Linked DNA regions of Homo sapiens. The protein of the gene in region 1 interacts with the protein of each later gene in a pairwise test. Each region holds a gene or a part of one and is shown in the gene's direction. Other genes may lie near its edges.

The links.
Region 2: the proteins of THAP7 (region 1) and DLST interact in binary tests that used the Homo sapiens proteins (3 or more experiments, as listed by UniProt).
Region 3: the proteins of THAP7 (region 1) and TPM3 interact in binary tests that used the Homo sapiens proteins (3 or more experiments, as listed by UniProt).

What each region holds. Positions count from the first base shown.
Region 1 is NC_000022.11:21,000,145-21,003,891, reverse strand, and holds the start of THAP7 (THAP domain-containing protein 7), read left to right. Parts: upstream 1-1,773; 5' UTR 1,774-1,980; coding exon 1,981-2,060; intron 2,061-2,480; coding exon 2,481-2,636; intron 2,637-3,104; coding exon 3,105-3,245; intron 3,246-3,459; coding exon 3,460-3,747. UniProt on the Homo sapiens protein: Chromatin-associated, histone tail-binding protein that represses transcription via recruitment of HDAC3 and nuclear hormone receptor corepressors.
Region 2 is NC_000014.9:74,891,796-74,895,542, forward strand, and holds part of DLST (dihydrolipoyllysine-residue succinyltransferase component of 2-oxoglutarate dehydrogenase complex, mitochondrial isoform 1 precursor), read left to right. Parts: exon of another isoform or gene 1-263; intron 264-1,038; coding exon 1,039-1,191; intron 1,192-1,552; coding exon 1,553-1,629; intron 1,630-2,516; coding exon 2,517-2,614; intron 2,615-3,747. UniProt on the Homo sapiens protein: Dihydrolipoamide succinyltransferase (E2) component of the 2-oxoglutarate dehydrogenase complex. The 2-oxoglutarate dehydrogenase complex catalyzes the overall conversion of 2-oxoglutarate to succinyl-CoA and CO(2).
Region 3 is NC_000001.11:154,171,487-154,175,233, reverse strand, and holds part of TPM3 (tropomyosin alpha-3 chain), read left to right. Parts: intron 1-2,032; coding exon 2,033-2,150; intron 2,151-2,255; coding exon 2,256-2,326; intron 2,327-3,129; coding exon of another isoform or gene 3,130-3,205; intron 3,206-3,745; coding exon 3,746-3,747. UniProt on the Homo sapiens protein: Binds to actin filaments in muscle and non-muscle cells. Plays a central role, in association with the troponin complex, in the calcium dependent regulation of vertebrate striated muscle contraction.

The sequences.
Region 1 (3,747 bases):
CTGCTACGTGCTTGGCAGGGCAAGGCAGGGTCACCACCTCAGCAGGCGTTTGTCCTCCTCCGGCATGATGCTACCCTAGCTGCCCAAGGTTCTAGCCTGTGTATGTTATTACATGGATTTTTTTACACATAAATACATAGACTTCAACTCACTTTTCTTTTTACAAAGTATACAATATACCTTGGATGTATTTATATCCCAAGACAGGGTTCTCATTCTTTTTCATGTGTTTTACTGTATGGGTAATATGGGTAATAATTTTTTTTTTTTTCTGAGACAGAGTCTCGCTCTGTAGCCCAGGCTGGAGTGCAGTGGCGAAATCTCAGCTCACTGAAATCTCCGTCTTCCGGGCTCCATCTTACATGCCCATAATCCCAGCTACTCAGGACGCTGAGGTAGGAGAATTGCTTGAACCTGGGAGACAAAGGTTGCAGTGAGCCGAGATTGCACCACTGCACTCCAGCCTGGGCAACAGAGCTAGACCCTGTCTCAACAACAACAACAAAGAAGGAGGAGAAGGAGGAAGAAGGAGAAGAAAAGAAAAAAAAAAGTCGTCAAAGGATATTAATTGTCGATAGATAACAGATAATGCCAAAAAATATAGAAGCAATTCTTAAAACACAGTGTTGGAACTGGTCCACAGCTCTGATTTTTAATGAGCTCCCATTTCTGAGGCCAATATAAACTTCATTCTATGCTGCCCATCTCTGACAGGTGGGCATTAACTACCAGCCCCCCACGGTGGTCCCTGTGGGAGACCTGGCCAAAGTGCAGCGGGCGGTGTGCATGCTGAGCAACACCACGGCCATCACGGAGGCCTGGGCCTGCCTGGACCATAAGTTCGGCCAAGTGCGCCTTAGTGCACTGGTACGTGGGGGAGGGCATGGCAGTGGGGGAATTCTCCGAGGCCCGCGAGGATCTGGCAGCTCTGGAGGATTATGAAGATGTGGGCATGGATTCCGTGGAAGCTGAGGCTGAAGAAGGCGAAGAATAGTGAGGGGAGGGTGCGGCAGGCAACCATCCCTCTGTATTCCCCACCATAACGCTAGGAGAGCTAATTACCTATTAAAATTTCCGTATTGCAAATTAGCCGGGCGTGGTGGCGGGCGCTTGTAGTCCCAGCTACTGTGGAGGGTGAGGCAGCCGAATGGCGTGAACCCGGGAGGCGGAGTTTGCAGTGAGCCGAGATCGCGCCACTGCACTCCAGCCTGGGCGACAGAGCGAGACTCCGGTCTCAGGAAAATAATAATAAAATAAAAAATAAAATTTCTGTATTGCGATACTGTCTTTCTCCTGTGTTGTACTTTGAGAGATTCCTCCTCCAGATAACCCTCCCTGAAGTCCACCTCCCCAGTACGAGAGTGAGTGCGGGCTCTGGTTTTTGTCGGGTTCTTTCGTGCAAGCGTCCCAGGCCCCGTTTTATTTCTTCCGTCAGAGGTCATTCCGAGGCGAGCTGCCGCCCCTGCGGCTTTCGAGGCTCCCAGGACACTGCCGCTTTCCGCTCCCGGGCCGCTCCCGAACGCTGGGGCCGCTCCATCGTGCCGGGGTGTTTACGGAGAAAAGTGAGGCCTGAGCGGACGAAAGAGAAGCCCACGTGGGCGACAATACTGGTAGTCCAGGGAGCTGGGACGACGCGGGCGCGTCAGAAACTCGCACGCTCGCGCCGCTTACTAACCCAGCTAGCTAGGACCTCGCCCCGCCCCGCCCCGGTGGCGGGGGCACCTCCGGCTCTCCAGTCTCTATGGTACCAACTTCCGGCGCGCGCTACCCCTCGCGAGACTTCGGCGGCGCAGCAATGGCCAGAGCGTGAGTGCCGCTGACAGAAGTCAAGAGAATCGGCTGGGACGGGGTTGGGGCGACAACGGGCCGGGGGGGACCCGACAGGCCAGAGCCCCTTGGGGAGGAGCGGCGGCTGGAGGCGCGAGGCTCCTCCGGATGCCCGGAGAGCCGCTTGCGACTTAACTCCCGCCTCTTTCCCAGATGCCGCGTCACTGCTCCGCCGCCGGCTGCTGCACACGGGACACGCGCGAGACGCGCAACCGCGGCATCTCCTTCCACAGGTCAGCGCGCGTGCGCCGCGGGCTCACGTGCGCATGCGCTAGTTGTTGCTCGCCTCGGGTCGCAACTGCGTAGAGGCTTCGCGCCTTTCTCAGATACTGAGGAGGCTTGAACCTGTGGGTGGGAGGTGAAGCGGAACGGTCCCGGCGGGACTGAATGCAGTCGGGAAGGGGAGGACGGGAAGTCTAGCCGGCTTGGACCCGCCCCACTCTGTTACCTGCCAGATGACGCTGAGGAAACTGCTTTTCTTCTCGAGGCCTCCGTTGCCTCGTCTGTGCCCGGGCGGTGGTGCTTACCCGGCGGGGTCGCAGGGAGGTCTCGTGGCGGCGCGTGTTGGGTCTGCGTTTCCCCTCTGGGGTGCTTGGGCAGCATGAGCCCAGGGCTGTGGACAGCCTGGTGCTCACGGGTTTGTGGCTCCACAGACTTCCCAAGAAGGACAACCCGAGGCGAGGCTTGTGGCTGGCCAACTGCCAGCGGCTGGACCCCAGCGGCCAGGGCCTGTGGGACCCGGCATCCGAGTACATCTACTTCTGCTCCAAACACTTTGAGGAGGACTGCTTTGAGCTGGTGGGAATCAGGTGGGCCTCCCTGCCGGCCGACGCTGGGGTAGGATGTGGGGCTCCCGGCGGACTGGGACAGCTGCAGGTCATGGAAGTCCCTTGAGCAGCCTGCGTCCAAGGGGGCTGTTTCCTGTTCCCAGCTCTGCACAGTGAAACCCACCCCCAGGATCACTGTGCCTGTGACACAAGGGGAAAACAGGAGCCTTTCCAGAGAGTATCTTTCAGAGCCCCAGTCTTGCCAGCAAGTCCACAAATCAAAGAATTCTTTCTGGCTGGTCAGCCCAGCTCGGCTTATGCAGGCTTTCCACACACCTGGACTGTGAGGAGTCCTGCGGGGAAGCGATTGGTGTAGCTGTAACTTGGCGTTCCCCAGACGTATTGTTTGCACGATGCCTTCCAGCATCCCACGGCGCTGCTGCTGGGGGCAGATTGGCCTGGGGAGGCAGCACTTGCTCTCCAGCTCATCTGGGTTGCTTTTCCCCGCAGTGGATATCACAGGCTAAAGGAGGGGGCAGTCCCCACCATATTTGAGTCTTTCTCCAAGTTGCGCCGGACAACCAAGACCAAAGGACACAGTTACCCACCTGGCCCCGCTGAAGTCAGCCGGCTCAGACGATGCAGGAAGCGGTATGTGATATGGGTGGGGGATGCCCCACTCCCACCCCTAGGCTGAGGGACTGGGCCCTAGGGGTGTCTGCCAGCAGTCTCGCTGGACAGGGTTCTTGCTACACAGAACCTGTGGATCGGGTTTGGGTGTTAAGGGTGGATCAGGTGGGCTGGTGGAGGGGGGTCTGGCAAGCCCTCAGCCTAGCCCATCAGTCTCTCTCTTCCCCCTTACCAGCTGCTCCGAGGGCCGAGGGCCCACAACTCCATTTTCTCCACCTCCACCTGCTGATGTCACCTGCTTTCCTGTGGAAGAGGCCTCAGCACCTGCCACTTTGCCGGCCTCCCCAGCTGGGAGGCTGGAGCCTGGCCTTAGCAGCCCCTTTTCAGACCTACTGGGCCCCTTGGGTGCCCAGGCAGATGAAGCAGGCTGCAGCGCCCAGCCTTCACCAGAGCGGCAGCCCTCCCCTCTCGAACCACGGCCAGTCTCCCCCTCAGCGTATATGCTGCGCCTGCCCCCACCCGC
Region 2 (3,747 bases), on another chromosome or scaffold:
ATTTCTTTTTCACTGTTACACTAATAAGGCAGATAGACCGCATGATTGAGGTTAGTCAGGCAAGACCAGAAGCTCAGAGTAGAAAACATGTATGGTAGAAGGCTGGGAAATAAGGTAGTCCTCCTGTTGCAGAAGTTTGTCTTAGCACTAACCCTGGATATAATGTCCAGATGGGTGAAAAACAGAAACAAACATTTCATTTAAAGTTGTGAGATTATTACTTGGCCACTTCAGTGATTTATGAGTCATCCTGGATGAAGTGCTTTCTTAAGCCTAAGTCAACCCTCGATGACTATTTTATTTTTTGAGATGGAGTTTCACTCTGTCGCCAGGCTGGAGTGCAGTGGCCTGATCTTGATTCACTACAACCTCCGCCTCCGGAGTTCAAGTGATTCTCCTGCCTCAGCCTGCCGAGTAGCTGGGACTATGGGCACATGCCACCACGCCCAGCTAATTTTTGTATTTTTGGTAGGGACGGGCTTTCACCATGTTGGCCAGGATGGTTTTGATCTGTTGACCTTGTGATCCGCCTGCCTTGGCCTCCCAAGGGGAGTAATCCCTTGGCCTGTAATCCTGGGATTACAGGCGTGAGCAACTGCACCCAGCCTATTTTTTAATAGTATTCTTGCATATATAATGTTAAAATAGAGGATGAAGAGTATCAGTAATTAGAAATATGTTTATGTATGCATTTCAATATTTTAAATTGCCTAGGTGTTTTTTTTTTTCCTTGGAAGTTTACATTTTCTTGGGCTTGATAGGTGCTTTGAAAGTACTTGCTGAATTTATTCAGTGGAAACCTGTGAAATTGGGAAGGGAGCTAAGTTGAGCCAGTTATCTGATGGACATTTAGGGACCCTGAGGACTAGAGAATAGTGCCTTATGTCATTGTGTGTGTGTCTCATAGTGCTTTGCATATTGCTGATACCCAGTAGACATTCGTTACTTGATTGGAGCTAGAGTTTTTGCCACTAAATTTTGCTTGGTTGCTTCTCATTTCAGACAGTGCCAGTGGCATATACTTTTCTTGTTTTTCAGCTGCTCCTGCTAAGGCCAAGCCGGCTGAAGCTCCTGCTGCTGCAGCCCCAAAAGCAGAACCTACAGCAGCGGCAGTTCCTCCCCCTGCAGCACCCATACCCACTCAGATGCCACCGGTGCCCTCGCCCTCACAGCCTCCTTCTGGCAAACCTGGTAGGCTTCCAACTCCCACATGTCATGTGGGAGAACATCTCGTCTAATATGTTCCTTCAAAGGGTAAACTCTAGACTGATGATGGTTCTGAACAGGCCAGGTTGGCTGCTTTGTAGAAAGAATTCTAGACTTTGTATCCAAAGGCCTGCTTTGCATCTCAGCTTTCTGTTACTAGCTGTGTGTCTTTAGGCTAGTCACTTAATTTATCTGAACAGATTGTTCATCTGTGAAGTTGGAGTGATACTAATATACCTCAGAATATCTTGAAGATTAAGTAACAGTACATATGAAAGCACTGGCACAAACTCAGCAGATGTTTCTTTCCTTGTCTGATGCAGCTTTATCCTCTTTTCATTTTCAGTGTCTGCAGTAAAACCCACTGTTGCCCCACCACTAGCTGAGCCAGGAGCTGGCAAAGGTCTGCGTTCAGAACATCGGGTAAGCCTCTGAGGACCACTTTCAGGAAAGAGGCAGGGGGCAGTGTTGAGATTAGTGGAGTATGGGTGTGGTGATGCCTACCTTTGAATGCCTGGCAGCTCATTCCCTCAACCTTGATAAAGGGAGTTTAGGATATAACTTCTTCATAGTCACATAACCATCAAATGATAGGACTAGAACCTGAGGTCTTCTGAACACTTGTTCAGTGGTTTTCCTACTATATTATGCTACCAGTGAAAGCCTTGGGTAAGTTAAATATTTGTAGGGGTGGTAGCTTAGTAACTCACCCCCGTCCTCCCACGATGTCACACGCTTCAGAGAGGTGGTTTAGTGAGCTCTATTCCTATACTTCTGGGATACTTAGCTGTAGCTAAGGGATAATACTCAGTAGCAATAGCTGTCAGGTGCAGACATAAAGCCTCAAGGAAGTATGGTCAGGATTGTGGTTCCTCTGCCTGAGAATACTTCCTAAAAATATGATAGCCTCGAAAGTTTGTTGCTCATGAGGTTCTGTTCCACAAATAGCTATTCTTATGCAAATCTTTATCAACAGAAAGTGCCCTTTTTCTTATGATTCTTATGTTGGCTAGACTACACTACACTACATTCTTTTATAAATGGGTTTTGGTTTTTAAATCACTGTTTCTGAGCCTTCATTCTTGGTCAAGCTTTAGGCACATCTGAGTGAGTAGTTTTGGCCTGTGTTTGCATGTTTTTGCTTGGAGGAGAAAGGGCCACCACAGGAAAGGGAAGCCTGGAGCTCGTGTACTTAGATACTGTAGTCCTTGGCCATCTACTCGTGGCAAGCCGTGTTCTTTCTGACTACACGGGGAATGCTTGACCCAGAGAGATCAGATTGTCAATGCTTGTTCCACTCTTACTTTCAGGAGAAAATGAACAGGATGCGGCAGCGCATTGCTCAGCGTCTGAAGGAGGCCCAGAATACATGTGCAATGCTGACAACTTTTAATGAGATTGACATGAGGTAGTGTCTCTAGTCCCTCTTATCCCCTAGGCCCCTTTTTCTTAGAGAACACGAACTTGCCCCACTCCTTATCTAGTGCTGATTCTAAAACTAACTTGTCAGGGAAGAGGTATTTGTTTATTGTTTTTTGTTTGTTTGTTTTTGTTTTTGTTTTTTGAGATGGAGTCTCGCTGTCTCCCAGGCTGGAGTGCAGTGGCATGATCTCGGCTCACTGCAAGCTCCGCCTCCCGGGTTCACGCCATTCTCCTGCCTCAGCCTCCAGAGTAGCTGGGAATACAGGCGCCCCCCACCACGCCTGGCTAATTTTTTGTATTTTTTTAGTGGAGACGGGGTTTCACCGTGTTAGCCAGGATGGTCTCGATCTCCTGACCTCGTGATCTGCCCTTCTCGGCCTCCCAAAGTGCTGGGATTACAGGCGTGAGCCACCGCGCCTGGCCTGTTTATTGTTAACTTTCACAGAGTGAGCCGCTGGCTTCTTCTCTAATTGGCTTTCCTAATACTATGCCTGCCTCCTCCATGACCTTAACCTTAGCCTTGGCTAGGTGTAGTGGCTCACACCTGTAATCCTGGCACTTTGGGAGGCCGAGGCAGGCGGATTGCTTGAGTCCAGGAGTTCAAGACCAGCTGGGTAACAAGGCGAAACCCCACCTCTACAAAAAATACAAAAATTAGCCAGGTGTGGTGGTGCACATCTGTAGCCCCAGCTACTTGGGGGGCTGAGATGGGAGGATTGTTTGACCCCGTCACTTACATATTTTCCTAAGTGATTCAGAATCGAGTGGATGAAAAGGCAAAGATAGGCTGGGCTTGTCTTTCATTTTACCCAGCTCTGACAGTGAAATGGAAAACAAGTTGTGTTTTTAAATAACCTTAGAATGTTAACCAAAGGTACTAATTCACTAGGTATGCCCATTTCTGTAGTGAGCTAATTGTTGACTTACCTGTTTTCTTCAAGATTTCAATGTGTTCAAGTATCAGCACTGTCAGGAAGAGAAATTTGACAAACGTGTTTTGAGTGCGTACTGTATACAGAGTACTGTACTGTGGAATTCAGTGGGGATAGACGCTGGGCACCATGGCTCGTGCCTATAATCCCAGAGCTTTGGGAGGGTGAGGAAGGAGGATCGCTTGAG
Region 3 (3,747 bases), on another chromosome or scaffold:
TCAGCCTCCCAAGTAGCTGGGACTACAGGTGTCCGCCACCACGCCCGGCTAATTTTTTGTATTTTTAGTAGAGACAGGGTTTCACCGTATTAGCCAGGATGGTCTTGATCTCCTGCCTTTGTGATCCTCCCGCCTCGGCCTCCCAGTGTGCTGGGATTACAGGCGTGAGCCACTGCGCCCGGCCTTCCCCAGCTAATTTTAATGTGTTCCTAGGGTTGAGAACCATGGCCCTTGAAACAAATTATAACTCATGTTTTTGAAAATAGCCAGTTGTCTCCTTGCCACATGTGAGTTAAACTAGAACAGAGGTGCTTGACAACTAAGGGTTTTCAGAATAAATAGTGCCTTTCTAAGGGTACGTTACTACTGTGCAGCTGTGAAAATGAAAGAGGCAGCTATGTGTATACTATTAGAGTAGCATGCAAATTATAGAAAGTGAGGGCCGGGCGCAGTGGCTCACACCTGTAATCCCAGCACTTTGGGAGCCTGAGGTGGACGATCACTTGAGGCCAGGAGTTCAAGACCACCCCAGCCAACACAGCAAAATCCAGTCTCTGGTAAAAGTACAAAAATTAGCCAGGCGTGGTGGGGCGCGCCTGTAATCCCAGCTACTCAGGAGGCTAAGGCACGAGAAGCACTGGAACCCAAGAGGCGGAGGTTGCAGTGAGCCTCCCTCTTTTTTTTGGTCTCAAAAAAAAAAAAAGAAAGAAAGTGAGGATAGCTGCATGCTGAATACCGGGGGGAAAAAAAAGAGTGTGGAAAACAAGTTGCAGAACCGTCTAGTATATTATTACTTTGGGGAAGCTGGGATGGGATTTTTGTGTGTATATATATATATATATATATATATATATATATATATATACACATATATTTAAATAATATTTATTTATTTTTTTGAGACAGAGTCTCACTCTATCCCCTAGGCTGGAGTGCAGTGGCACAATCTCGGCTCACTGCAACCTCCACCTCCCGGGTTCAAGCCATTCTCATGCTTCAGCTTCCCTCAAGTAGCTGGGATTACAGGCGCCTGCCACCACGCCTGACTAATTTTTGTATTTCTAGTACAGACAGGGTTTTGCCATGTTGACCAGGCTGGTCTCAAACTCCTGACCTCAGGTGATCTGCCGGCTTCGGCCTCCCAAAGTGCTGGGATTACAGGCGTGAGCCACCACGCCCAGCTGTATATATCCATATTTTTATTTAATATTTTAGTATTTAATTTCTTAATAAGTTTTTTTGGGGGTGGTGGAGGAGACGGTGTCTCACTCTGTCGCCCAGGCTGGAGTGCAGCAGTGCGATCTTGGCTTACTGCAACCTCTGCCTCCCGGGTTCAAGTGATTATCTTGCCTCAGTAGATGGGATTACAGGTGCTTGCCACCACACCTGGCTAATTTTTGTATTTTTAGTAGGGACAGGGTTTCACCATGTTTGCCAGCTGGTCTCGAACTCCTGACCTCAAGTGATCCACCTGACTTGACCTCTCAAAGTACTGGGATTACAGGCATGAGCCACTGCGCTTGGCCAGGATGTATTACCTTTATAACAAAAAGTTTTTTTTTTTTTTTTGAGACGGAGTTTCGCTCTTATTGCCCAGGCTGGAGTGCAATGGCTCGATCTCGGCTCACCGCAACCTCCACCTACTGAGTTCAAGTGATTCTCCTGCCTGAGCCTCCCAAGTAGCTGGAATTACAGGCATGTGCCACTACGCCCAGCTAATTTTGTATTTTTAGTAGAGACGGGGTTTCTCCATGTTGGTCAGGCTGGTCTTGAACTCCCGACCTCAGGTGATCTGCCCGCCTCAGCCTCCCAAAGTGCTGGGGTTATAGGCGTGAGCCACTGTGCCCAGCCATAACAAAAAATTTTAAATGAAATAATTAAACTAAGGTGTGGGAGTAGTAACATGGAATTTCCATTTGAGGGGCAGACAGAGAGGAGTGGGCTTTTAAAAGTACAGTTCTGAGACCCTTGGAGTGGAGCTGACGACACACTCCTCAGGGTGTCAGTATTGCTTTTGTCCTATTTCTGGCAGAGGTATGAAGGTTATTGAAAACCGGGCCTTAAAAGATGAAGAAAAGATGGAACTCCAGGAAATCCAACTCAAAGAAGCTAAGCACATTGCAGAAGAGGCAGATAGGAAGTATGAAGAGGTAAGTGACCTTCTGTTAGTCCCTCTCGTATCGGCCTTTTACAAAGCATAATGCGGTAAATGGCTCCTTTGCTTCACTAAGCTATACTGGGATCTTTTCCTGTAGGTGGCTCGTAAGTTGGTGATCATTGAAGGAGACTTGGAACGCACAGAGGAACGAGCTGAGCTGGCAGAGTCGTGAGTATCTAGCTCCCCAAATCTTGTCATTACCAATTTATCCCTTCCCCTTTGGCTTGGGCACTAATATGAATAAATTAGCATTCCTTCAACCTTGTTAAACAGGGCCTAGGGAATGGGAGTCATCTATAGTGCTTTTTTAGGCCCAAGAATGGTTTTAGGCTTCCTTATTCTCCTGACTAGTGACAAGTGACAAAAGAGGCTTTCTTATTTTTTGTTGGTAGGGTTTACAAATTGAGAGCAAATAAGGACTAATACATGGTGAACAGTTAATTGGAAGATCCTACTGGGTCCTTCCACCTGGGGTGGAAGACATCAAAGTGGCTATCCTGATTTAAGATCTAGTGTCTGGCTGGGTGTGGTGGCTCAAACCTGTAGTCCCAGCTACTTAGTATGCCAAGGCAGGAAGGTTGCTTGAACCCAGGAGTTGGAGGCCAGCCTGGGCGTCATAGGGAGACCCTGTCCCTAAAACAAATAAATTTAAAAAAAAAATCTGGTGTCTGTTTTGGCCACTTTGCCAATCTGCTAGGGAACCTTAGGGCAAGGGTAGATATTAACTGCTCTCCCGTCGGTACCTTCTGGGCCTTGATTAACAAAGTCAGTGCTGAATGCATATGTATTTGTGCTTCCCTCTTACATTCCCGTCTGCCAGACATAACATATCATGACCATGGTGGTGTTCTCTTCCCATTTTTTGAATTTTTTTTTTTCGTTTTGCTGCTTGTTTTCTTGCTGTGTTCCTTTTTGACCTTTCTCCCTCCCCACAACCTGGCTTGTGCCATCCCCGTGACTATCACTAACAGCCGTTGCCGAGAGATGGATGAGCAGATTAGACTGATGGACCAGAACCTGAAGTGTCTGAGTGCTGCTGAAGAAAAGGTACTAACCATTAAGCCCACAGCAAGGTTATATATGTGGTGTGGTTTTGTTTTGTTTTGTTTTTGTTTTGCAGCTGCCTCCCCTCCACTTGATTTTGTTGAGTGCTGTCTCATCTCTTCATGGAATGCTCCATTCTTTTCCACTTACTTGGCATCTTTCATCTCTTCTTTCCTAGTTGCTTCACTGCCTCTCCACAGGGTCTCCTTCCTTTGGGTGATTTGGGGGACTGTTTGGGTTGGGCATTTGTTCCCACCTCCACCCCAGGTAGCAGTTATGACTTGTTCCTGGTAGTGGATTTCTCTCAAGTGCTTTATTAGTATTCAAACATTTTTGAGCCCAGGAAGGTCTAGCTCCTGACACGTTCTATGGTAGAGGGAGGAGGGTTGATGCTTGCTCAGGTTACTTGGGAACATCTCTTCCCCAGTATGCCTTCCAACTCTCTCTACATATAGGTTCAATTCACGTCTATGTGTCTCTCTCCCTTTTTTTATTCTCTTCCTTTTCCCTTTTCCTCTCCTGTGGTATTTAAAATATTCACAGTA